Linked DNA regions of Homo sapiens. The protein of the gene in region 6 purifies or fractionates together with the protein of the main gene of each other region. This does not show direct contact. Each region holds a gene or a part of one and is shown on either strand. Other genes may lie near its edges.

Region 1 (3,500 bases), on a different chromosome or scaffold from region 6:
CACAGGGACTAGAAGAGAAAAAGTGAAATGTGTACAATAAGGATGGGAACAACAATAGGGAAGGTTGGAAGGTCTGGCTTCTAGTGTCAATTTAAAAGCTATAAGGCCAAGCACAGTGGCTTACGCCCTATAATTCCAATACTTTGGGTGGCCAAGGCAGGAGGACTGCCTGGGCTCAGGAGTTTCAGACCAGCCTGGGCAACGTAGTTTCTCCAAAAAAAAAGATTAGCCAGGCATAGTGGTACACGCCTGTAGTCGCAGGTACTCGGAGGTGAGTGGATCGCTTGAGCCAGGAGGTTGAGTCTGCAGTGAGCTGTGATCACACCACTGCACTCCAGCCTTGGCAACAAAGTGACACCCTATCTCAAAAAATAAAGATAAAAAATAGGCCGGGTACAGTGGCTCATGCCTGTAGTCCCAGCACTTTGGGAGGCTGAGGCGGGTGGATCACCTGAGGTCAGGAGTTCGAGAGCAGCCTGGCCAACACGGCAAAACCCCGTCTCTACTAAAAATACAAAAATTAGCCGGGCATGGTGGCAGGTGCCTGTAATTCCAGCTACTCAGGAGGCTGAGGCAGGAGAATCACCTGAACCTGGGAGGTGGAGGTTGCAATGAACTGAGATCATGCCACTGCACTCCAGCCTGGGCAACAAGAGTGAAACTCTGTCTCGAAAATAAAAAAATAAAAATAAATAAAAAATAAAAACCTACAGGAATTTTATAAATGAAAAGAAATACACATGTGTACATATCAGTGAACTTCTCAAATATCTGACCGAGCACTGTAAAAGGTCTAGATTATACAACAGTGTTAACAGCACTGGGATACTGGAGGACACCTTTGCCTTTTACATTATTCTGAGCAACCCAAACTCAAATGCCTGGCAGACAACACAATGAAGGAAGCCAGCTAGTGGAGACAATGGCAGTCTGGAGTGACCATGCCAGGTCTAAAGGACACAACCACTACTCAGCTCCTTGTCATTACAAACATGAGGGAATACGGGCCTTCTGCTATCAGTACTTTCAAATTTTTACAAGAAGCCAGAAATCATATTTTCATGTAAAAAAATTTTTAGTTTTCAGCCAGGTGCAGTGGCTCACGCCTGTAATCCCAGCACTTTGGGAGGCGGAGGCGGGCAGATTACAAGGTCAGGATATTGAGACCATCCTGGCTAACATGGTAAAGCCCCGTCTCTACCAAAAATACAAAAACTTAGCTGGGCGTGGTGGCGGGCGCCTGTAGTCCCAGCTACTCAGGAGGCTGAGGCAGGAGAATGGCGAGAACCCGGGAGGCGGAGCTTGCAGTGAGCAGAGCAGAGATGGCACCACGGCACTCCAGCCTGGGCGACTGTGCGAGACTCCGTCTCAAAAAAAAAAAAAATTTTAGTTTTCTAATGTTGGCACCAAGTCTAACAATTTTTTTAAAGTATCATATAGGACAAAATATTGACTCTGAATCTAGCCAAATATGAATGTTCCTCTTCAAAGTTATTTAACTTCTTTTCTTTTTTATAACTAACACATATTGGTGTTATCATCTAAAAATGTAAGGCAGGCTGGCCGCGGTGGCTCACGCCTGTGATTCCAGCACTTTGGGAGGCCAAGGCAGGCAGATCACGAGGTCAGGAGTTCCAGACCAGCCTGACCAACATGGTGAAACCCCGTCTCTATTAAAAATACAAAAATTAGCCAGGCGTGGTGAGACACCTGTAATCCCAGCTACTCAGGAGGCTGAGGCAGGAGAATCGCTTGAACCCGGGAGGCAGAGGTTGCAGTGAGCTGAGATCACATCACTGCACTCCAGACTGCGCAACAGAGAGAGATTCCGTCTCAAAATAAATAAATAAATAAAATAAAATAATTTCAAAATTAAAAAATAAAAAATAAAAATGTAAGGAACACAGACCACTTCAATTCTTGGAAATGGGTTTCACATCTATGAAATGAATGGGTAAGATGAGAATGACTGCTAAAGTTACTGTCCATTCTAACCTCTGAATATATCAGAACTCAAGTCCTGTGAGGACACAAACAAGCCCACGACAGCTTTAAAGGAAAAAAAGGGGGCAGGCACGGTGGGTAGCTCATGTCTATAATCCCAACACTTCGGGAGGTTGAGGCAGGAGGATTGCTTGAGCACAGGAGTTCGAGACCAACCTGGGCAAAATAGCAAGATCCAAGCCCTACAAAAGATTTAAAAATTAGCTGGGCATGGTGACACACACCTTTAGTAGTCCCAATTTCTCAGGAGAAGCTGAGGCAGGAAGATTGCTTGAGCCCAGGAGTTCAAGACTAAAGTGAGCTATGATCATGCCTGCATTCCAGCCTGAGCAACAGAGTCAGGCCTGTCTCTGGAAAATAATAAATAAATACAAAGAAAAAGAAAAGATTCCTGGCATCGGTTAGCAATGGAAGGAAATCATGCTTACTCCTTAGCATAAATTCCAAGCATCTCTACACACACACGCATGAAATATAATATATTAAGGGGAAAATGGAATTAAGGGAAAAAAGAAGGAAAGAAGAAAAAAAGAACATACACAAACTTAAGCAACCAAGGTCGATTGTTTAAATGAAAACCAACTTTAACAAACCTCAACACTAAGGATTTCAAACTTCTCTCTTGCGGACTTGCTGCTTTCTCTCTTTTCGATTTTCAACTTTTTTGTTTTTGCTGGCCCCTTCTGGCTCTTTTTTCTTTTGGTGGATCCCTCTTCAGTAGAAATCTAGAAGCGGGTAGGGGGAGCCCACAAAGACCCAAAAGAATAAGAAGCAATCTGAGTTTTCCCTCCTATTTCAGGTCATCACTCACCTTGCTTTGTTACTCCTTCACTCCACCCTACCCCATCCCACTCCCAATTGTTCCTTTAATTCTTGCTTAAAAAAAAAAAAAAAAGGGGGGGGGCCGCCAATGTTCCCTCTGCCCAAGGTCTGAGAAGCCTCCTTCATGTTCCCAAAGTCTCTTCTCTCTTGTGTTCTCCCTCTCTTGACTGGGATGAACACTGGGTTCCCCAGTTTGAGAAGCAATGTAGAATAGTGCATGAAAATGGACACCAGAGTTACACAGACCCAAGTTAAATTCTCATCTTTTCCACCATAACAAGCTATGTGGTTTCAGCTAAATTATATAAAATCCAGGCACAGTGGCTCACACCAGTAATCCCAACACTTTGGGAGGCCAAGGCGGGAAGATCACTTGAGATTAGGAGTTCAAGACCAGCCTGGCCAACAGGCTGTATTTTTTTTTCCACTAAAAATACAAAAAAATTAAGCCGAGCATGGCAGCACGCACCTATAGTCCCAGGTACTCGGGAGGCTGATACAGGAGAATTGCTTGAACCAAGAAGTGGAGGTTGCAGTGAGCTGAGATCACAACACTGCACTTCAGCCTGGGCGACAGAGCAAGACACTGTTCCTCATCATGGAATTGCAATCAGTGCTTCACAGTACAGTTGAAAAGATTACATAATACAGACCTAAAGCCACACACTCAAATG
Region 2 (3,500 bases), on a different chromosome or scaffold from region 6:
TTATTTTCCCGTTGGTAGACCTATCATTCCATTTTCTGTGTTGTTTCTGGGATATATGTCTCTACTTATTAAAAGGTGACTTATTCAGACTTATTCAGAAGAGCATACATTAAACTATAAGGCCAGTGAAGGCAGGGGTTTTGTCCATTACTCTATCCTTATCTCCTAGGGAGGTCATAGTCCATAGGAGGCACTAAGTAAATCTTTGTTGAGTGAATTTAAGCTGTGTGTTCAGCAATGGTGAACAGCTATGTTGAATCACAGACTCCAGTGTCTCTTGTAACTGGTAATACAGAATTGTGAACAAAGTTATGAGAATTATAGGTAAAACTGGTGACCTTGGAGTACTTTCCTAGATGGAGCAGAATACGGGTTTTAGAGTTGTTTAAGCACTCTATTTGAATCATTTGGAACATGTAACATATAATGCTATAACTTAGCATTATTCAATTGCTAAAATTGTTAGTCTTAGTTGAAGTAATTTCTATCTCCATAGATGTAGTAAAATTGGGAACTCAACCAAGACTGAGGTTAATAACTTGTTTCGGTATTGCCTGGGCAAATTTTTGATTTACTACTTTTGAATAATGTCTTATATCTCTATTATATGATTATTAGAGTGAATGGCATAAAAGTGGTATTTTTGTTGCAAAATCTATTTTCTCTTGGTTTAGGTTCAGAGCACTGGTGAAGGAGAAGCACAGAGATATTTTGATCATGCACTTACTCTGAGAAACACAATACTGTTTCTGCGTCATAACAAAGATCTAGTTGCGCAAACTGCACAGCCAGACCAACCCAATTATGGTATGATAAATATATTTAATTTTGAAGACATGATCATATGAAACTTTTTTCTAAGAAATTAAACAGATCATGCTCACTTATATAATCATCACTTACGTATTTTGTGTAGATAGCATATTGAATTTATAACTAGAGGCCTGTTTTGTGAATTTCTTGCTTGTTAACTGTTTCTTAACCTTATTTTACTTTTCTCATGTGCCACTAACATTTGTAGTATTTAAATCTGTTCAATACCTGCAAAAGTGTTGGTGTTAATTTATTTAAGTAGCTGGATGGAATTTAGAACAGGCATCAGCTCTGAGGGGTGAACAAGGGCAAAATTTTAGTTAATGTAGGAAGCATAAAATTTCAAGAATGAAAGATTCCATCATAATGAAAAGAATAAAGAGGAGCCTTCTGTTCAAATGCTACTGCAATACTTACCAAAAGATTTTACTTTTAAAAAGGAAATAGATAATTCTTTTTAAAGAGTAAAAGAAGTAGCAGCAATTTTAAGGTATTGATGAACTTTAATGGAGCTGTTGCCCTACTGGGCACTCTCAGTTTTGTGATAGTTGGGGGTTCCCAAACTTTAGTTGAATTGATGGTGTCAGAATTTCTACCCAGATGGGGATTTGGATTCAGTAGGTTTTGAGGTGTGGCATGGCACTCAGGAATGTGTGTTTTTTAAAAGATGATTCCAGTGCTCAGCTAGGCTTGGGCACCCCTGCATGAGCACTTGGCTCAAGTTCTTAGACATTCACAAGAGTTGTGTCTTGGGGCTTCATGGGTCCTCAATACCACTATAACGTTTAATTTTGATTAGTTTCATTTACCTAAAAACTATTTTTTCTGGCCAAGAACATCAGTTTCTTAATCATCTCCATTTTCATTTATTCTCTCACTAGCATCTGGCTTTCTTTTCAGCTCAATTTTAAAAATTGAGGGAGGATTCAGCTGTTACTTAACAAGCTGTCACATAGGTGAGAACAAACATGCTGGGTAGTTTACTTGAGTGAGGCTAGACTCACTTGGTATCAAGTGATTCACTTCTGCAGCCTTAATATGCCTTATCTGAAGAATTACAGATTGTTACATACTGGGGCTTTTGAGATCATTCATAAATAGTTAAAACTGAGAATATTAAATTGCCAAATGCCGAGAGTCCTAAGCACTTACTGGTAGGCATTTGTTGATGGATAACCATTTTTGGTTAATAAATACTAAATCATGTGATAAAGCAGTGGTGAGTGGCACAGTCTTGAGGATGTCTTTGGATATAAAACTCCTGGAATTTCTGGGACTTTTTAGTGATTTATGGAGATAATGTATTAGATGATTTGAAATACTCTGTTAAAGCTGTCTTGAAATACATTGTCCTTTCCTGCCTATCACAGAATGTGAGAACATTAGAGAGTACTAGTGACCAGTGAAGTGTAACTCCTATTATAGATAAAGAAATTGGAGTTTATATTAGCTAAATCTTCTGCTTGTTTTTTAGTCATCAAAGCCCATATTATTAGTAAATGGAAGAGCCAGGAATGGAAGACTTGAATCTGTGTCTGTTGATTTTTTTTTTTCCATTGCCCTGTCCCTATATTATCTTCTCTTGAACGCTAAGCTTTGTATTCATTTACCCATAAACATTTGTTGCTTAGTAGTCTGGGCTGGGCTAAATTTTTTCCCCATGAATAGTCAGTGTACCATGAAGTAAGTTAAATGGTAAATCTAAACCTATTCTCTATGAAAATAGTCCTGTGCAATCCTAACCTTTAAGGTGGGTTTAATGTTAGACTGTTCCTGACCCTAGTTGGAGATTTAATTGCTTAGAATAATTGCTGGGTCTCCAAAGTTAAATTTGATGAATGCCTCCCCTTAAGACCAAACCTGCAATTACTTATGAAATTTCATTTTTGCTACCAGCATTTCTTAGCTTAGCTCCTCATCTGAATTGCAGAACATGGAAATGATTGGCGTGACTATTTCTCAGTTTTTCTAATGATGGTGCACATTAGTACCGTTCTCAATGCATGAAAAAGGTCATTCGTTCTATGTAGAGGATATCTTAGGGCATTAAGGCTTCATGCTCAGCCTGTTGAGAAATGTTGCTTTCTGCAGTTACTGGGCTTGGTAACTGAACCTTACTCTTTTTTAGAAAAGAAATTCTCTGCCGGGTGTGGTGGCTCATGCCTGTATTCCCAGCACTTTGGGAGCTCGAGGCAGGCGGTTCACTTGAGGTCAGGAGTTCAACACCAGCATGGCCAACATGGTGAAAACTCGTGTTTACTAAAGATATAAAAATTAGCCAAGTGTGGTGGCAGGCACCTGTAATCTTAGCTGCTCGGGAGGCTGAGGCAGGAGAATTGCTTGAACCTGGGAGGCTGAGGTTGCAGTGAGCTGAAATGACACCACTGCACTCCAGCCTGGGTGACAGACTGAGACTCCGTCTCAGAAGAAAAAAAAGAAATCCTCTAGTATTGGTGTTTTAAGCGTCTTGTTTGAGGAAAAAGAATTTTCTTTTTATGTCACTAATAATTTATACTTTGAGTATATCATGTAGTACTTGTTATCTACTATAAAGCAAAAGCATTGTGATATTATACAAGCAAACTCTGTTATACATGGAACTAGTGTCTTAGTCCTAGGAGTCCTTAATCCCTTGGTTTTAAATAGCACGGCGTACTGTTTATAAATAAAAGTCATGCGTGGTCTGT
Region 3 (3,500 bases), on a different chromosome or scaffold from region 6:
GAATACAGACTTGACGTATCTTTCCCATCAAACAAGGATGAAGTCCAAATGACTATGCCCCATTAAGCAAAACAACAAAGGCAGCACACTTTGGGTCTAACACCTTAATTTTTGTTTTAAATATAATAAGCACTGGTAAGTTGTCATACTCACCCATGGCAGTGTTGTAGGCATTAGGAAAACTTTTGTCTGTTCTCTGTCTCATGAAGACCCAGCTGTTGTTCTCAAATTTGCATTCTATAATTTTGTTGTCATACTGTTTCAGCTCTTTTGTCACCTGTTTTGAAAGAGAATTGAGGAAAATATTTAAATAACTTGAAAGGCTTTTTGCTTCTACTATGTGACAGGCACATTAGGAAATGATAAAAATACCTCAGTAACTCTTCATGCAGAGAGCTCTTTGTCATCTGAAGTATCTAATCAAGCTTAAGGTATGGTGTGCACTCCCTTGTACACATGCTCACTTATCCGACATTTTATAAATAATTGTGAAAATGGCTGTCAATATATAGCAATTAAAAGAAGCTAGGCAGAAACCAGCCATGCTGGGCCAAATGCAAATATGTTACCATGGGGACCAATACCTTCAATATTGTCTGTGTCTCTACGGCTTTCAGAAATTGAGTATACTGCCTAGGTTTCATCAACTTTCAGAAAGGTCTAACCATCTAAATTCCTATGTTAAAATCTAAGAAATGCCGTGTACTAGTTAAATGAAAAAGTTACATATCAATAGTGAATACTAGGATCAAATTCAGGCAATGTACATCCTAAATATTTTGCTTTCCAAGCAGTGACAATTAACCAACAATCTAATCTTCAGGAAACTTAGCCTTTCCATCCCCAAACTAGTACAAATTTACAGATGAAGCTATTTGTGACATTAGTTGATGGGTTTTTTGGCTTCTTCACCTCAGATGACTGAATATGGATACTCTATCAAAGCTAACAAGTATCCATGGTAACTACGAACCTTTTAAAAGATATTTCACTGGGCTGTGAGAATGGTTTTCATAAATAGGAACCTAAGCTTATCTTTGTAGTTTTCAAATCAAATGCCAGTCATGGTAATATTTTAATTCTGTCCTCATCTTTCATGGCTAACAACTTTTCCTCACAATATGGTAGACTGCAATCATTTAACTTCATTAGCATTATCTGAAACATTCTCATTTTTCTACCCACATATTCACTACCACCTAGGAATATGACGAGAAGTAAGTTTTTAAAAGATGCTTTCAATTCGCAGATTAGGCAGCACATGTCTTCATAAAAACTTTCAAACTATATTCCTTTCCCTTTACATTTGATTGTACCATCTGCATTTTCAACAAATCCAACAGGTGCAATACACTCAGTGGTTTTGGAACTAGACATGCCCAAAAAAGTGATATTCCAAGTAGCAAACTTGCCAAATTTATCCTCAAATATTCATTATTTTAGTCTCAATTCTCTTGCCTTGCTTTCTAGGGACCCATTCTTTTATTTTGGAAACACTGTGTATATGCAAGTATTGGACAACTCATTCAGTTAGGTAAACACAGTTTTGCTATACCACATGTAAGGTCTAACAGAAATAAGTTTCTAAACCTTTCAGTGTCTATTTCCTAATTTCTAAAATGGGGAACAAGTTCCTAATTTACTGGGTCACTGAAAGAATAATAATTGAAAGTGCCTGGGACATAGAACAATCAGTAAAATTGTTAACCAAATATAAAATTAGGCAATGAAACATTGCTTTTTAAAATCTGTGGTAAAAAAACATTGAATTTTCCATCTTAACCATTTTTAAGTGTACAGTTCAGCAATGCTAAGTGTATGTCTAGAACTTTTCCATCTTGCAACACTGAAATGCTATACTCCCTAAACACTAATTGCCCCCCTTCCCCTCTACCCAGACCTTGATAACTGCCTTTCTACTTTCTGTTTCTATGATTTTGACTACTTTAGATACTTCATACGAGTATTAACAGAATCACACACTATTTGTCCTTTTGTGATTGGCTTGTTTCACTTAGCATAATGTCCTTGAGGTTTATTCATGTTGTAGCATGTGACAGAAATTCTTTCTTTTTAAAGGTAGAATAATATTCCACTGTATGTATACACCACATTTTCTTTAGCCATTCATCTGTCAATGGACACGTGGGCTGCTTCTACCTCTTGGCTATTTTGGATAATGTTGCAAAGAACGTGGGTGTGAAAATATCTCTTTGAGATCCGGTTTTAAATTATTTTGGCTATACACCCAGAGGCAGTATCACTGGATCATAATTTTATTTTTAATCTTTTGAGGACCCCTTTGTTTTCCATAATGGCTGCATCAATTTACATTCTCACTAACAGTATGCAAGGGTTCCAATGTCACATCCTTAACACCTGTTAGTTTTTGTTCCTTTTTTTTTTAAAAAAAATTGACGCCCATTGTTTACTGTGCTCTAATTTAAACTTTTTGTTCTTTCATAGTGGCCATCCTGATGGTGTCAGGTGCTATCTCATTGTGGTCTTGATTTGCATTTCACTAATGACTGAGAATCTTTCCATGTGCTTATTGGCTGTATACTTTCTTCAGTATACTTTCTTCAGTATACAAGAAACTTTGTCAATTTTTTTAATTGGGTTGTTTATTGTTGTTGAGATGTAGGAGTTCCTTATATATTCTGGACATTAACTTCTTATCAGATGTACAATTTGCAATTATTTTCTCCCATTCTGTAGGCTGCCTTTTCACACTGCTGATTGATTCCTTTGATGTACATAAGTTTTTAACTTTGATGTAGTCCTCTTTGTCTATTTTTTATTTTGTTGCCTATGATTTTGGTGTTGCACACAAGAAATCATTGCCTAATCCAATGTCCTAAAGATTTGTCCTGGCCGGGCACAGTGGCTCACGCCTGTAATCCCAGCACTTTGGGAGGCCGAGGTGGGCAGATCATGAGGTCAGATCGAGACCATCCTGGCTAACACAGTGAAACCCTGTCTCTACTAAAAATACAAAAAGATTAGCCGGGCGTGGTGGCAGGTGCCTGCAGTCCCAGCTACTCGGGAGGCTGAGGCAGGATAATGGCATGAACCTGGGAGGCGGAGCTTGCAGTGAGCTGAGATCGTGCCACTGCACTCCAGCCTGGGCAAGAGAGGGAGACTCCATCTCCAAAAAAAAGATTTCTCCTATGTTATCTTTTACAAGTTTAATAGTTTAAGGTCTTATGTTTTGGTCTTTATTTTTGTGTTAATTTTTGTATATGGTGTAAGGTAGGGGTTCAACTTCATTCTTTTGCATGTGGATATTGCTTTCCCAACACTGTTAGTTGAAGATATTGATTGTCCCTTCCCATTGTGTAGTATTGGCGCCCTTGTGGCAAATCATTTGGCCATATATGCAATGATTTATTTCTGGGCTCTCTATTCTGCTCCATTGATTTGTATCTCTATCTTTATGCCAGTAATTAAGTATGCCATCTAAATTAGATGCTTTGAAGTATGTTTTGAAATCAGGAAGT
Region 4 (3,500 bases), on a different chromosome or scaffold from region 6:
GTCCCCTGATAAGTCGGTCTGTATTTGATTTCAATTTATTCTAATTAATCACAGTCCATTTTTGGGTTATTGGTCTTCAATAATAATACAGGGTTCAACTTTTCCAGTGTTTCCTAAAAGTTGCTGCTTGTGTCTGTGACCTCTGTGACTCCCAAAAAGGAAACCATGTATGCTTATGAAGACTTCACATGCAATCGTTTCATCTTGTTGGTTACCTTGCTTTGACACCAAATCACTTTCTCCATATTTTAAATAATTTGGCTGTTTTAACATAAGAATACCCTCAACAATGGCAACTTAGTTGTTCATTCAATGAATTCTTTAGAATAGAAAAAAAGAAAAAAGAAAAGTAAAAAAATCTTAAATGCCCTACAATTGGGGACTGGTTAAATAAGTATGGTATAACCAATGTAAGCAATACTGTAAAAGAGTAATGATGTGGCAAAACATTTATAATATAATGTTAATTGAAAAAGGCAATTACAAAATAGGATGTTATACTATGACACCATTGAAAAGGCTATTTCTATGCACAGAGAAAGAACTGGAAGGCAATATGCATAAACTATAATGGTAGTTCTCTCTCTGTATTGAATTTGGGTGATTTTCATTGCCTTTGTTTTGCTTACCTGTCTTTTCTATGATGAACATATATTGCTTTCATGTTAATACAATAAAAGCTTGTTTTTAAAAATAGTACTTTTATTATTGTGTCTAAAGTTTTCACAGCATTTCCAGCATAGAAAATGCTTTGGGAAGAAAATAATGGAGAAACAGTTCCTTGTAATTACTGGATTTGTAATGTTCTCGGCAACCACGCTGACATACCCAACTGGAGGCATCTATCAGTTTGATAGGGTGCCAATTAAAACAATGAAAATTTGGATATAAAAATAAAAGAAATGACTCCTAGTCTCCGCATCAGGGGACAAATTTGGGCTCTCTTAAGGTTGTAGCACAAAACTGGTCTGCACTGATGTTAAAAGAACCAAATTCCATTTTACTTATACATGTTTACATGTGCTGTGTTCTGCCCATGACCAGAGAATTATTTGGATGAACTGGAAAAGTAATAAAAATCATAATGATATTAACATGTAACTGTTATGGAGTACCATGTACTGTGCCAAGCACTTTATAGGTATAGATCTTTCCAGAAATTTAGCTAGTTTTGCGTGTATCTAAATATGTCCCTGTTATTTCTGATCACAGATTTCCTTAATGCAATTCTACAACATGACCTTTGAGTGTGACTCAGACTGTATAAGGACAGAGTCCTTGTCTGCTTTGTTCCCCTCTATGTCCAAGACCTCCAAGGGTCTGAAACACCCAAATGGTCTGAAAAGATATTTAAACTACTTGTGCAGGTCTCAGCTTTATCTGTAGCTTCATGAATAGATGCTTAAACATAGCAAAGCTTAGAATTTTCACCCCAAGAAAGAAAAATTGAAAATTGGTAAACACATTTGCATAGTCAGATATAAGTACAACATAGAGTGGTATGTGATTTCATACTAATTTGACAATTTGAATCAGATCCTTTCTAGATCAACATCCATGTGATTTGAATTAAAAATGAAGTAATTAAGTGACTTTAGTTATATTTGTTGCTTGCTGAATCAGTAACCAGTCACACCATACCAAAGTTCTAATGTAGGATGCACTGAGATTTTGGGTGAACATTCACTGTAAGATAACCTAACCTAAGGTTATCATCATGTAATTCCACTAAGGAGGAGATTTCAAATAAAAAAAATGAAAGAAATAAAAAGCTAGCAAAATGTAAACAAATCTCCCAACTCATTTAAACCTTTTTGTGTAGACCAATTTATAGGCTGCCAACCATTCCACTGATTTAAATTTAGTCCAATGCCTGAACTACATGTCATAAAACAGAAGCAGAACAGATAATTAAAACAAAAATCAAAACTTTAAAGGTGGCAGATTTTTTTTTTTTTTTCAGATAATGGAATCACTGATGAAATCCAGTATCCTAACTAATCTTATTGATGATAGCAAATGGCTGGACTCAAGAAAAAGTTATGATTTCTTTGAAAAATTCATGTTTTCTAATTCATGCCATTCTAAATACTGCAGAAATATTGACATGATTGAAATCCACTATTTATGCTTCTAAAAGGAATTACAAGTAAAATTTGGGCAATAACAAGTATCAAGAATGACCAAGTTGGTAAACAAGTTCAAAAATAGCAAAATTTAAATCTTCTTTGCAAGGGTTAAAGACGGAAGAAATACCGTCAGCATGCAGGAACAACCAGCCAAACTATGTATAATCTTCTAAATTTATCACAGTCAAGTAATATGAACCCTAAGGCTGTCATGAATCTCAAAATTACTTTGTGTTTTCAATTTTTAAAGAGTTCGTATTGAGCACATTTCCTTATTATATACTTTAATATTTTCTCTACATACATAATGTATGTTTTGGTTAATTTGTTTTGTATATTTAATTGACCAGATGAAATTCCAAAATGCTAGTAAACTGCTTTCTGTTAAAAGCTAGAAAACATTAATGTTGGCTTTTATTTTTGAAATCAAATTTGGTTCTGTACATTACTTTAAAAATAAACTCCTTTTTAAAATCTCTTTTGCCAATTATTTATGCACAACTGTTACAAAATTACTGTATGGATTAATGACTGATTGGCTTTCTTTCAATGCATTAAAACTTTAATTTCAATGTATTTTCTAGAAGTACCAGATTTTTAAAAAAAGACTACGGATGAAGTAATCCTACTCTTTTTCTGGAGGAAATGAAATGTTACTTCAAAGTTCAATGCAGAAAAATAAAGACTTTTGTAGAATGAGAAGCAGAAATCTAGCATAATGTTTTGTTTCAATGGGGCATTTCATCCTTTTGATTGGTATAAAAAAACCCAATGAGAGTAAATAGAATTGGAGAAACATGTCAAGAAGGCCTGTGGCTTGTCACTGGTTTTCTAAACATCCAGAATTTTTGAATTTTCAATTTCCCTCTAGTCTGCCATTTTTTTCTAAGCTATATGAGTCATTCCAAATTGTGTTCAGTAGACAAGGGCAAACATATATGGGATTCTAGTCATGTAGTGGCTTTCATCTCTGGAGGCACTTATAAGTGCAAAGTTCAACAAGAAAACCTTGAAAATACAGGTCAAATGCACTATTCACAAAGATTCCTTCAAATTCATCATTGGTATTTGTGGTAGTCAGGCTGGGCTGGTGGCTCATGTCTATAATCTCAGCACTGTGGGAGGCTGAGACAGGAGGATTGCTTCAGGCCAGGAGTTCGAGAGCAGCCTGGACAATATAGTGAGACCTTATCTCTACAAAAAATTAATTTTTAAAAGTTAGCTGAGGCCAGGCACGGTGGCTCATGCCTGTAATCCCAGCACTTTGGGAGGCTGAGGTGGGCAGATCACAAGGTCAAGAGATCGAGACCATCCTGGCCAACATGGTGAAACCGCATCTCTACTAAAAATACAAAACTTAGCTGGGCATGG
Region 5 (3,500 bases), on a different chromosome or scaffold from region 6:
AGTGTTTTCTCTGGGGCTTCCTTTTGTCCAGTTCCTTCAGTCGCCTGCCCTGGGCTGTGCTGTGGGCCTCTGTGGTGGGGATACTGGCAGCTGCACTGCACATTGCTTCGTGCCTGCGAGTGTGTGACAGCAGACACCTGCGGGGTCGGGAGCACCCAGGCCCACTGGGTCTTTGAGAGGCGGGCGCCCTTCAGCAGGTCTCTTCATGTCCAATGCAGGAGACCAGAGGGTCTGCAGCAACAGCAGAGCAGGCTTAAATCCCTCATGGCAGAGCGGCCTGAGGTGCCGCGGCCTGGAGCTCACCCTGAAGCCACTCGTTTCTTTACCTGTCCTGTGGGTCTTTCCGTAGCTGGTTACCCCAAGGATCATAGGCTGGCTCCTCAGTGGCCCTGCTCCCATCCATTCTGAAGGCCCTTGGCTTAGATGTTCCTCCTGTTCAGGCTTTGCCAGCCCTCTGCGGTCCTCCCCCCCGCGACCCGCAGCAGTCCTGTCCATAGCACGGGGCGCCCCGAGCGCTTAGCGGCACAATGCTAAAGCAAAGGTGACATGTCTGTTGCGCGCAGGTCCTGCTACCTACCCGGGATGACTTTGCTATTAAACAGCAGTCATAGTTTCAGGCAGTGACCTCTTGCCAAAAATCCCACACGCCCTTTTGAGAGGCTTCTGAGCAGCGCACGCCGGTCGCCATCTTCGTGGGACAGTCTCGGGACTGGCATCAGGGGTAGGGGTTACAGTTCAGATGCTTCTCCAACCTTTTTTCAGCGTCCGTCCCTGGCCTCATGCTGGGATGATGGCCGCGTGGCTCTCCGAGGAGCTCCTCTGCTGGCCCCGGGGGACGGACGGGAGGACCAATTGGTCTCTTCCCAAATTTTTTTCTAGGATTGCTTCCCACGCAGCCCTGGGAAAGCCCTAGATTGACGGTTTTTGTGAGTGGAAGATAGAGGTCGGGCCAGCAAGGACTGTCAGACCTGCTGAGGCCCTAGTTCAGACGGGGCCGCCAGGACGCTCGTCACAGTCCACCTAGAGGTGGGATAGAGGGCGGCGGAGCAGCTGCTTCACTTCCTGAGGCCTTCAGCTGCCGCCTCTTCATCCGGGGAGAATTGGCTTCTCCTGTGATATTGGGAGAAGACCCCATCGCAGGGCATGAGATTGGACAAGCAGAATGGGGAGGACAGAGGGAGCAGGGGGCTGTGGTGCACATGGGGTGGGCAGGCTGTGTCCCTAGCCCATCCTGGCCGCCTCAGGCCATGTGGGGAGTTTGGTGACTACTCCGGGCTCTCACTCCAGGCCCGTGTCCACCAGGAGTCTCTGACAGTGCCTTGGGGCATCCTGGACCCTGCCGCGTGGTGCAGGCAGTGGCAGGGCACAGGGTGCGGTGGCCAAGCTGCAGCCCCCCGACCAGGCCCTGGAGCTCAGCTCCTTTGCAGGCCACTCAGAGCGTCTCGAAGGGACTTGTCTGTTACAGGAGAGAAGGAGGACGAGGACGAGGATGTGAAGAAGAGAAGGGAAAAGCAAAGGAGAAGAGACAGGACGCGGGACCGTGCAGCCGACAGGTGAGGCGCGGGCACACGACCCCACAGGAGGAGGTGGACTCGTGCGGTGGAGGCGCTGCCGAGCTCACCTGTCCTCGCTCCACAATGCTGGGGGCCTGGTGGCCTGACTCCTCTGGCCAAACCAGTGGGAGGCAAAACAGTAAACAATTGGGAGTGCAGAAAAGACCATCACTCGTGCTCCCAGCACACGAGCTACCTGTCTTCTAGGATGGCTGGGACGTTGCTTTGGTGGTTAGGTTTCTGTTCTTGCTTTAGAGGATTGGTGTTTGACTCCTGTGTCTCTATTCCTCTGGAATCCCAGCCTTGCTGGTGGGTCTGTGTGGTCCATAACTGCTCAGCAGCGGGCTCTGTTACTCTCCTGCAGGCCTGAGGGGCATCCCTGCCCCCTAGCCTGGTGTCTGGCATCTCAGACACTGTCCTGTGTTCACCTTATCCAAATCCAGACCACCCCTGGAGTTTGACACAGCTAGGAGACAGGTAGAGAGATGATCCTACCATCAAGATTTTGTCCCACAATAGAAAAGGATTGCAAAAATGTTGAGCCCAAAGGATGTCATTGTGAGCACACCATGTGCCTGCCTCTCCCTGCCAGGAGTTAAGTGGCTTCTGACTAGAAACTGAAATCACCAGTGATCATGTGATGCTGGGGAATCCTTGACCTTAAGGTTCACATGGGACAGTGATTTTCTTTTTGTTTGTTTGTTTCTGAGATGGAGTCTTGCTCTGTCGCCCAGGCTGGAGTGCAATAGCATAATCTCGGCTCACTATAACCTCTGCCTCCTAGGTTCAAGCGGTTCTCCTGCCTCAGCCTCCCGAGTAGCTGGGATTACAGGCGCCTGACACCACGCCTGGCTAATTTTTGTATTTTTAGTAGAGGTCGGGATTCACCGTGTTGGCAAGGCTGGTCTTAAACTCCTGATCTTGTGATCTGCCCGCCTTGGCCTCCCAAAGTGCTGGTATTACAAGCGTGAGCCACTGCGCCCAGTCTGGGCAGTGATTGTCGTGTTCAAAGAAATGCTTAGTAAAAGGGGCCAGATGCCGTGGCTCACACATGTAATTCCAGCACTTTGGAAGGCTGAGCTGGCGGATCGCTTGAGGCCGGGAGTTCAAGACCAGCCTGGTCAATATGGTGAAACCCATCTCTACTAAAATTACAAAAATTAGCCAGGCATGGTGGCAGGTGCCTGTAATCTCAGCTACTCGGGAGGCTGAGGCAGGAGAATCACTTAAACTGGGGAGGTGGACTTTGTAGTGAGCCAAGGTTGCACCACTGCACTCCAGCCTGGGCGACAGAGCAAGACTCTGTCTCAAAAAGAAAAAGAAACGGGCTGGGGGCAGTGGCTCACGCCTGTAATCCCACCACTTTGGGAGGCCAAGGCAGGCGGATCACCTGAGGTTGGGAGTTCGAGACCAGCCTGACCAACATGGAGAAACCCAGTCTCTACTAAAAATACAAAATTCGTCCGGCATGGTGGCGCATGCCTGTATTCCCCGCTGCTCGGGAGGCTGAGGCAGGAGAATTGCTTGAACCCAGGAGGTGGAGGTTGCAGTGAGCCAAGATCACACCACTGCATTCCAGCCTGGGCAACAAGAGCGAAACTCTATCTCAAATAAAAACTCCATCTCAGTGAGCCGAGATTGTGCTACTGCACTCCAGCGTGGGCGACGGAGCAAGACTCCATCTCAGGAACAAAAAAAAAAAAAGAAAATCACTGTTCCATGTGAACCTTAAATCAAGGATTCAAAAAAAAAAGAGAGAAATGCTTAGCAAAACGAAGCCAGGAACCAAACGCAGAACTGTTTCTTCTTAAGTGGTACAGGAACATTGAAACCCTTGTTATTTTAAACAGATAAATGGATAGAGTAGATGACTTTTCATGTCACATGGAAACTGAGATGACATTTTCTTTTTAATTATTTTTAAACTTAAATAATCTAATAAAGAGA
Region 6 (4,071 bases):
GATGTCTGTGCCGCCCGCCTCGCCCCCAGCCCCTAGGTCTCCTTACATCCGTGTTCTGGTAGGCGGTGACGGCGATGAACTGAGTCTCAGGGAAAGTGAACGTCTGCACGCGGCCGGGCTGGCTAGTGTCCTCCGTGCCGTCCTCGTTCACTTCCACCACATGCAGGCGGGGCTGGTACTTGTGCAAGGACTGTAAAACCACCATCTGTCCGGCGGGAAGAAAGGGGAGCGCCGGGTGGCGTGTTAACGCGGTCGCTGTGCGCGTGGCTGTGTGCGCCCGGCTGCGCGCCCGGGCCGGCGGAGGCAGCCTGCAGCCCGCCTTCCAGGCTAACTGACCGCGGGACTCGCCTGGCTGGCGGCTGGCTGGCTGGGGCAGACCGGCTTTCGCACCTCTGGGAGCGAAGATAAGCCGGGGCACCGGAAAAAAGGGGGAAGCCGACCGCCCGATCCTCAGGGCCCTTCTCCTAGTCCTCCTGTAAGGAGGAACAAAGATTTCCACAACCTGCAGATCTTGTGGGGTTTCTTCTCAAAATCAATCAGTATTAGTACTTGGGAAGGTCGGGCACTCCAAAATTGGGCCGACGGAGGTGTTGCCAATGAGAACAACTTTACAGATTTAATATAAATTTGGAGGGTGGAAATACAATTTTTAAGTCTTTTTAATGAAGCAAAGAAACGTGTATCCAGTTCCATATGCTGCTTTACACTGACGAACTGGATGTCAGGGAGGAAGGGGTGAGAGAGAGAGAAAACACGAGCGCTTGAGCCACTGACCTGCCCATTGTTATTTGAAGCTCCTTTGTTGTTCGTAAGTTTTAATTTTCCAAAAGAGATTTCTTGGCGCATCCAGTGAGCCCCAGTGTTGGGGGAATCCGGATGCATATAGACCCGATTTCCTAGAGAAAGAAATACATTGTTTACATATGCCCCTGGCACTGCCCAGTCCCAGCTCCTCACCACGTAGGACACACACACACACACACACACACACACACACACATACACACACCTTACTCCACCATGAAGCCCATTAACTGGGGCTTTTTTAGGCCATTCTTTCTTCCTATTAACTGGGGGTGATTAAAATAGCTTTTGCATAATCCTCCCCCTTCTCGCAGCTCAGTCTGTCCCCCTGTCCCCCTCGTTTCCTTTTAGAAGTCATTGGCCGATCGTTTTAAAAGTCGCTCGAGCCAGTCCACAAAGGCTTTAATTAATCATTCTCACCTAAATAAGTGTCAAGAAAATGTGTTAATTGGAAGGACTTGCCTTGCACATTGGTGTCCGCTTTGCCGCAAGGAACCCATTTGCCTCCTTGAAACCTCCAGTGATTGGGATCCGCCAAAATCACATCCACAAAAATATTGTAATGAGCCGTGGGATCGAGACCAGAAATGTTAAAACTTAAAAAAGGAAACATGCGCCTATTTAAATTAAGGGGTGGGGGGAGAAAACAAGGAAAAAAGAAACATAAATGTTAAAGATTAAATGCAAGAAGCGGGGCGCCAGTTAGCAAAGCAAAACTTGTACTTGCAGCAAATAGGCGAATATTTGCTGGATTAGAAAAAGGGTGGTGGGAGAAGAAAAGAAGTGCAACCCAAATCAGGGAGAGCGGCGGGTGAGCTGGAGTGGGAAGGTGGCAGTTATCACTGCCCAGGTGGAGAGCGAGGTTGGCGACCTGCGTCTCCACCTGTCCGTGCATGCCAGTGTTGATGCGTCCCTCCCATCGCCCAGCCGCTGGCCAGGGCTCTTCCTTTTTCTTGCCTTCCTCTGGCCACTGACTGGCTCTCCCACTATGTTCCTAGAACGGGGTCCCCCCCACCAACATCACCCTGGCGGTTATCCCTTCCACTTTCCCCCTTTCCAAAACTAGCCAACTCTAGGGCGCCTTCCACTCCGCTCCCGACCCCAAATCGTCGCTGCCGCGGCAGTCACAGCCTAGGTGCACTTGTCCCCGGCTGCGCCTAGAGCAGCGGCAGCCAAAAATGTAGTATTACCTTCCCTGTTTGGTGATGATCATCTCCGTTTGGTGCCGGTGAAATTTCAGCCAAAGGGGCCTGTTGCACAGGTACACCTGTGCTTTGCCGGGCACCAGCCCCGGCTGGGTGGAGGAGAACTGGTAGAACGGAGCTCCTTGGTAGGAGTGGCCGTACTGCTGTGGGTAGGGGTAGCCGGCCGTGGGGTATCCCTGCGGCGAGGAGTTGGACAGGAGGCTGTTGTAGGCTCCGTTGGTGATGACCGGGTGGTGGGCCATGTAGCGGCTAGGGCTGCCGATGGAGAAGGCGGGGTGCGCCGGTCCGTGCTGGCCGGGGTACGGGAACATGGCACTGGGAGCAGTGGCCGCAGACTGTGGCTGGCTGGACTGAGAGAGGAGGTAGCGATCTGCAGCAGAGCCATCGAAACTGTGACGAAGCTCAGAGACCCCGTCCAAGACAGGAGAGAGTTTACTTCTCTGGACGTCCCCTGGTGAGTCCTTGGAGTCAGGAAAATTGTCTGTATCTGACTGATTCGTCATCCCCCTGGTAATTTTTTTCAAAGGTGAACTTCTCTCCAGGTTGTCAGTGGTCGAGATAATGGGATGATCGTGCAAGACAAGCTCGGATCCGCCTGAATGTGGGTAGCTGCTGCTCACATTGAGAAATTTCTTGGAGAGCATGATAGAAGGAGAAAGGCAGTGCTCCAGCTGCATAGCTCTAGAACCTGAACACTCGCCCTCCCGTCCCTGGTTTTTAAAGTCCTATTTATCATAAACTAGAAATCCACAGACCCCCTCACTAGACAGAAAGCACTTCAACCAGCAAATGCTTCTCAAAGGTTTGATTTACTTTTTTTTTTCCCTGGGAGAAGAGATTGGCCAATTGACACTATGCAGCAATCAGAAAAGGCTCACTTTTGATCTTGCTGCTTGTGCAGCCGATGAAACGGCTCCTGCCATTGGTTAGCTGCTGACAGTAATTTAATTAGATAGACATTAATTAGGATAATCACCTGGCTCCTGGTAGCGACGATCATGGCAAATTGAAGGGGATGATTTTATTGTTGGCTTGGGGGGTGGGGAATGTGTGTTGGTTTACGTGAGCACTGTTGTGTCACCTTTAAGCTCTGTGACCACTGCTTTAGGAAGATTCAAAGATGTGGAATTTACTAAACATTTCCTACCTTCCCCCCCTTCCCCCCTTTAGAGCGGAGGGGCGGAGGAGGGAATTCGACGATGCTAGGAGACTTTTCGGATCTGAATGAGCCAAATATTCAGTTGAATGTAACGATTTCAAGTGCAAAGTATACAAAGCGCGAGCCGGTGGCCTCTTCTCGCCCTGTAAAAGTTCCAGAGTCTGTCTTTTCCAGCTAATACAAAAGCACACAACACCTGAGCTGGTGCTTTGTGAGCAGATCCTACATGTCCTCGGCGCCCCCACCCCCACCTTTTAAACTGCAAACATAAATAAATAAATCCCTGCTGCTGAGAGCCACAGCGACAAGCAGAAGGGGGGAGGAGAGGGGGCGAAAAGCAGCAACTCACCCACCAATCCACCCACCTCAGGAAGGTTCGGTTTCTTGGTTGAGTACAGAAACAGTGACAATCTATGATCTCCTTTTTAAGTTTTGAAATAATCATAAGCTGTCGGGCTGAAATGCCTTAATGTATTTGCAGTGATGTTTACCGGCTCTTTATTAAATATTTTATCAGCGCACTTGGTTGCAGATTATCTGAAGAACATCTAACTGGGGGCAGGCGCCATGCATCCTTCTCGTCCCTCTGCATTTCCTTCTCTCTGAGGTACTGGCTTGGCGACAGGTTCAAAAGCCTCGCCAGGAAAAGAGAGGGCCGAGTCCCCGTGCAAATGGGCTCGTCAGAAGCGCTGATCTGGGGAGACAGAGTGGAAGTGGTGTCAACACAGTAATCGCTACTGAAAACGTGTGTGTGTGTGTACGTGTGTGTGTTTAATGTTTATATAATCTGGAGGGGAGAAAAAGCATCCATGCCAATAATTTTTAAAAGGAAAAAGAATCTAAAGAGGAATAGAAAAAAACCAATTTAAAAAGATGTTGGCACAAATAAATAGCACGAGGCCC
Region 7 (3,500 bases), on a different chromosome or scaffold from region 6:
CGGGCGTGGTGGCTCACGCCTGTATTCCCAACACTTTTGGAGGCCGAGACAGGTGGATCATTTGAGGTCAGGAGTTTGAGACCAGCCCAGCCAACATGGTGAAACCCCATCTCTACTAAAAATACAAAAATTAGCCGGGTGATAGTGGCGCAGGCCTGTAATCCCAGCTACTCGGGAGGCTGAGGCAAGAGAATCGCTTGAGCCTGGGAGGCAGAGGTTGCAGTGCGCCAAGATTGTACCACTGCATTCCAGTCTGGGCAACAGAGTGAGACCCTGTCTCAAAAAAAACAAAAAAACAAAAAAAACAGTGGCCTTGAAATCTTTATCCAGGTAAAAAGCAATCGTAATAATAACGAAAAATGTTCTAATTTGAAAGTCAGGCACAAGTGCAGTTTGAAACCTGATTGTTACTAAATGAATTTAGTCTATCCTAAAAGCTATTTCTCATGTCTACCTGTGTTATCAGAAGAAACAACAGCATTCTAGCATCCTGATATCATTCTAGCATTGGGATGAAACGTTGCCATCCTAGGAGAAGACATGGGTTCTTATGGATAAACGACTTAGCCTTCAGCCAGCTTTAGCAGTGTTTGGGAGCAGTGTACAGACATGCACCATTTCCCACCTTCCTCTGTGAAATGCTGCAGTATTATATGGTGCTTTGAAAACATGCCCTGCTGGAGTGCTTTGGGAAAAAATAGCCTGTTTCAAAGTTTCATTTATTATAGTCATGTAAAACAACTGATTGCCTCTATCATTTATTTTAAGAAACTTTCCTAACAAAATAGCCCTCCGTCTGCCTCTGTAGTGAACTCTGTGGACAAGGACATTAAATGACTGTGCATTAAAAGTTACATCCTTTCTCACCGCCTGCCTGTTTGTGTTTCAGGCATCCTGACAAAAACAAAGATCCTGGAGCAGAAGACAAGTTCATTCAAATCAGTAAGGCTTACGAGGTATCGTGTCCAGCTTTGTGATGCATCCATTAGCTCTTACAAAATATGCCTTAGGAGGTGATGAGTTTTGTAAAGTTGTCAGAAAGGTCATGTTCCCCATGCCCTTGATGCAGTTTCTAGATTATAATAGAGAGAACAGGCTGGATGCGGTGGCTCATGCCTGTAATCCCAGCACTTTGGGAGGCCGAGGTGGGTGGATCACGAGGTCAGGAGTTCGAGACCAGCCTGACCAACATGCTGAAACCCTGTCTTTACTAAAAATACAAAAAAAATTCGCCGGGCGTGGTGGCACGTGCCTGTAATCCCAGCTACTCAGGAGGCTTAGGCAGGAGAATTGCTTGAACCCGGGAGTGGGAGGTTGCAGTGAGCAGAGATCGAGGCCTGGGTAACAGAGGGAGACCGTCTCAAAAAATAAAATAAAATAAAAAATAATAGAACATATTTGGCCACATCCAGTATATTGGAACAAGTGCCTGAACACTTCAGCTCTTGGAAAAACTGGCCTATTTTAAAGGCTTTAACTAGAATTGTAGAATTACCCTGAGTATGTCTGTATGTGTCACTATTGCCTTCTTAGAAATATGCATTAAAGAATCACATACCAAATCGCCTATATTTATTAAAGTGGCACGAGGTAACAAATACATTTAAACACAAGATTTTCAGTAATTTTCCAGTATGTCAGCTCAAGTAGATTGGTCTGGAATATGCATCAAAGAGAATTCAGTGGCTTTCTGATTTGTATAGGGAATGCCCTTCAGCAGACAGTGCTTAGCTCATAGAATAACACGTCATCATTCTAAAACAGATTCCTGAATTTTAGACTTCAAAGTTATTTTGTAAAACAAAGTAAATTAACAGACAAGGCACTAGACTATAGCTATTTGGTGTTCATAGCTTTTCTTATCTTGGTTTGAATTGGTCCAACTCACCAGGTATGACCAGGTCAATTTTCTTGTCATTGAGCCCTGGTGATCAACATTATGTTATTTTATTTGTTTTGCTGAAGTGTTTAATGTTGTGGTAGTTTGAAATCTTTAATGCCAAGATGAGCATGAGTACCTAAACTGAAATATTTTAGTCTTGAATGTTCTTTAATGTTTCTCTAGTGAAAGAAGAGTTTCTCATTCTTTTGAATGACTGCATTTAGAATATCTAATCGGCTGGACCCAGTGGCTGCTCACGCCCTGTAATCCCAGCACTTGGGGAGGCTGAGGCATGCAGATCGCTTAAGCTGAGGAATTCAGGACCAGCCTAGACAACATGGTGAAAAATACAAAAATTAGCCAGGCATGGTGGCATGTGCTGATGGTCCTAGCTACTCAGGAGGCTGAGATGGAAGGTTGACCCTGAGAGATGGAGGCTGCAGTGAGCTGTGATCACGCCACTTCACTCCAGCCTGGGTGACAGAGTGAGACTCTATCTCGAAAAGAAAAAGAATATCTAATTATGTCATAATCTTTTTTCTTTTTTCTTAAGAGACAGTCTGTCTCTGTCACCCAGGCTGGAGTACAGTGATGCGATCACAGCTCACTGCAGCCTTCAACTACTGGGCTCAAGCAATCTCCCACTCACCTCACCCTCCCAAGTAGCTAGGACTATAGGCACGCACCACCATGCCTGGCCGATTTTTTTTTTTCTTTTTGTAGCAAAGTCATGCTATGTGGTCCAGGCTGGTCTTGAACTCCTGGCTTCAAGGGATCCTCCAAACCTTGGCCTCACATAATCGTGTCATAATTTTTACATTTCTTTTCTTTTCTTTTCTTTTCTTTTTTTTTTTTTTTTTTGAGACGGAGTTTCGCTCTTGTTGCCTAGGCTGGAGTGCAGTGGCACCATCTCGGCTCACCTCAACCTCCGCCTCCTGGGTTCAAGCAATTCTCCTACCTCAGCCTCCCGAGTAGCTGGGATTACAGGCATGCGCCACCACTCCCGGCTGATTTGATTTTTTGTATTTTTAGTAGAGACGGGGTTTCTCCATGTTGGTCAGGCTGATCTCAAACTCCCGACCTCAAGTGATCCACCCGCCTCAGCCTCCCAAAGTGCTGGGATTACAGGTGTGAGCCACCACGACTGGCTGCATTTATTTTCTTCCTATGTCTTTCAAGCTGCTTACAAAAAAGTCTTTTGGATGAACCTTTTGTTGTTGTTTAGATTTTTTTCTTCCTTTATAGATTCTTTCAAATGAAGAAAAGAGATCAAATTATGATCAATATGGAGACGCTGGAGAGAACCAGGGCTACCAGAAGCAGCAACAGCAGCGAGAGTATCGCTTCCGCCATTTCCATGAAAATTTTTATTTTGATGAATCCTTTTTTCACTTCCCTTTTAATTCTGAACGGCGGGACTCAATTGACGAAAAGTATTTATTGCACTTTTCACATTATGTGAATGAAGTGGTTCCAGATAGCTTCAAGAAACCCTACCTCATCAAGATCACCTCCGATTGGTGCTTTAGCTGCATTCATATCGAGCCTGTGTGGAAAGAAGTCATTCAAGAACTGGAAGAATTGGGTAAGATAATTTTATTCACTGAAAGATATTTAT

What was found.
Region 1: the proteins of TBR1 (region 6) and PDCD11 purify together in Homo sapiens (affinity purification with mass spectrometry, with the first as the bait; one large-scale study listed by BioGRID). This does not show direct contact.
Region 2: the proteins of TBR1 (region 6) and FAM91A1 purify together in Homo sapiens (affinity purification with mass spectrometry, with the first as the bait; one large-scale study listed by BioGRID). This does not show direct contact.
Region 3: the proteins of TBR1 (region 6) and RNGTT purify together in Homo sapiens (affinity purification with mass spectrometry, with the first as the bait; one large-scale study listed by BioGRID). This does not show direct contact.
Region 4: the proteins of TBR1 (region 6) and NFIA purify together in Homo sapiens (co-immunoprecipitation; one large-scale study listed by IntAct). This does not show direct contact.
Region 5: the proteins of TBR1 (region 6) and AKAP8 purify together in Homo sapiens (affinity purification with mass spectrometry, with the first as the bait; one large-scale study listed by BioGRID). This does not show direct contact.
Region 7: the proteins of TBR1 (region 6) and DNAJC16 purify together in Homo sapiens (affinity purification with mass spectrometry, with the first as the bait; one large-scale study listed by BioGRID). This does not show direct contact.

What each region holds. Positions count from the first base shown.
Region 1 is NC_000010.11:103,399,626-103,403,125, reverse strand, and holds part of PDCD11 (protein RRP5 homolog), read right to left. Parts: intron 3,339-3,500; exon of another isoform or gene 3,296-3,338; intron 2,730-3,295; coding exon 2,598-2,729; intron 9-2,597; coding exon 1-8. UniProt on the Homo sapiens protein: Essential for the generation of mature 18S rRNA, specifically necessary for cleavages at sites A0, 1 and 2 of the 47S precursor. Directly interacts with U3 snoRNA. Involved in the biogenesis of rRNA.
Region 2 is NC_000008.11:123,788,939-123,792,438, forward strand, and holds part of FAM91A1 (protein FAM91A1), read left to right. Parts: intron 1-674; coding exon 675-807; intron 808-3,500. UniProt on the Homo sapiens protein: As component of the WDR11 complex acts together with TBC1D23 to facilitate the golgin-mediated capture of vesicles generated using AP-1.
Region 3 is NC_000006.12:88,614,119-88,617,618, forward strand, and holds part of RNGTT (mRNA-capping enzyme), read right to left. Parts: intron 278-3,500; coding exon 154-277; intron 1-153.
Region 4 is NC_000001.11:61,379,561-61,383,060, reverse strand, and holds part of NFIA (nuclear factor 1 A-type), read right to left. Parts: intron 1-3,500.
Region 5 is NC_000019.10:15,366,288-15,369,787, reverse strand, and holds part of AKAP8 (A-kinase anchor protein 8), read left to right. Parts: intron 1-1,465; coding exon 1,466-1,553; intron 1,554-3,500. UniProt on the Homo sapiens protein: Anchoring protein that mediates the subcellular compartmentation of cAMP-dependent protein kinase (PKA type II).
Region 6 is NC_000002.12:161,415,026-161,419,096, reverse strand, and holds the start of TBR1 (T-box brain protein 1), read right to left. Parts: upstream 2,801-4,071; 5' UTR 2,687-2,800; coding exon 1,995-2,686; intron 1,422-1,994; coding exon 1,267-1,421; intron 897-1,266; coding exon 775-896; intron 206-774; coding exon 47-205; intron 1-46. UniProt on the Homo sapiens protein: Transcriptional repressor involved in multiple aspects of cortical development, including neuronal migration, laminar and areal identity, and axonal projection.
Region 7 is NC_000001.11:15,533,348-15,536,847, forward strand, and holds part of DNAJC16 (dnaJ homolog subfamily C member 16 isoform 1 precursor), read left to right. Parts: intron 1-889; coding exon 890-956; intron 957-3,127; coding exon 3,128-3,467; intron 3,468-3,500. UniProt on the Homo sapiens protein: Plays an important role in regulating the size of autophagosomes during the formation process.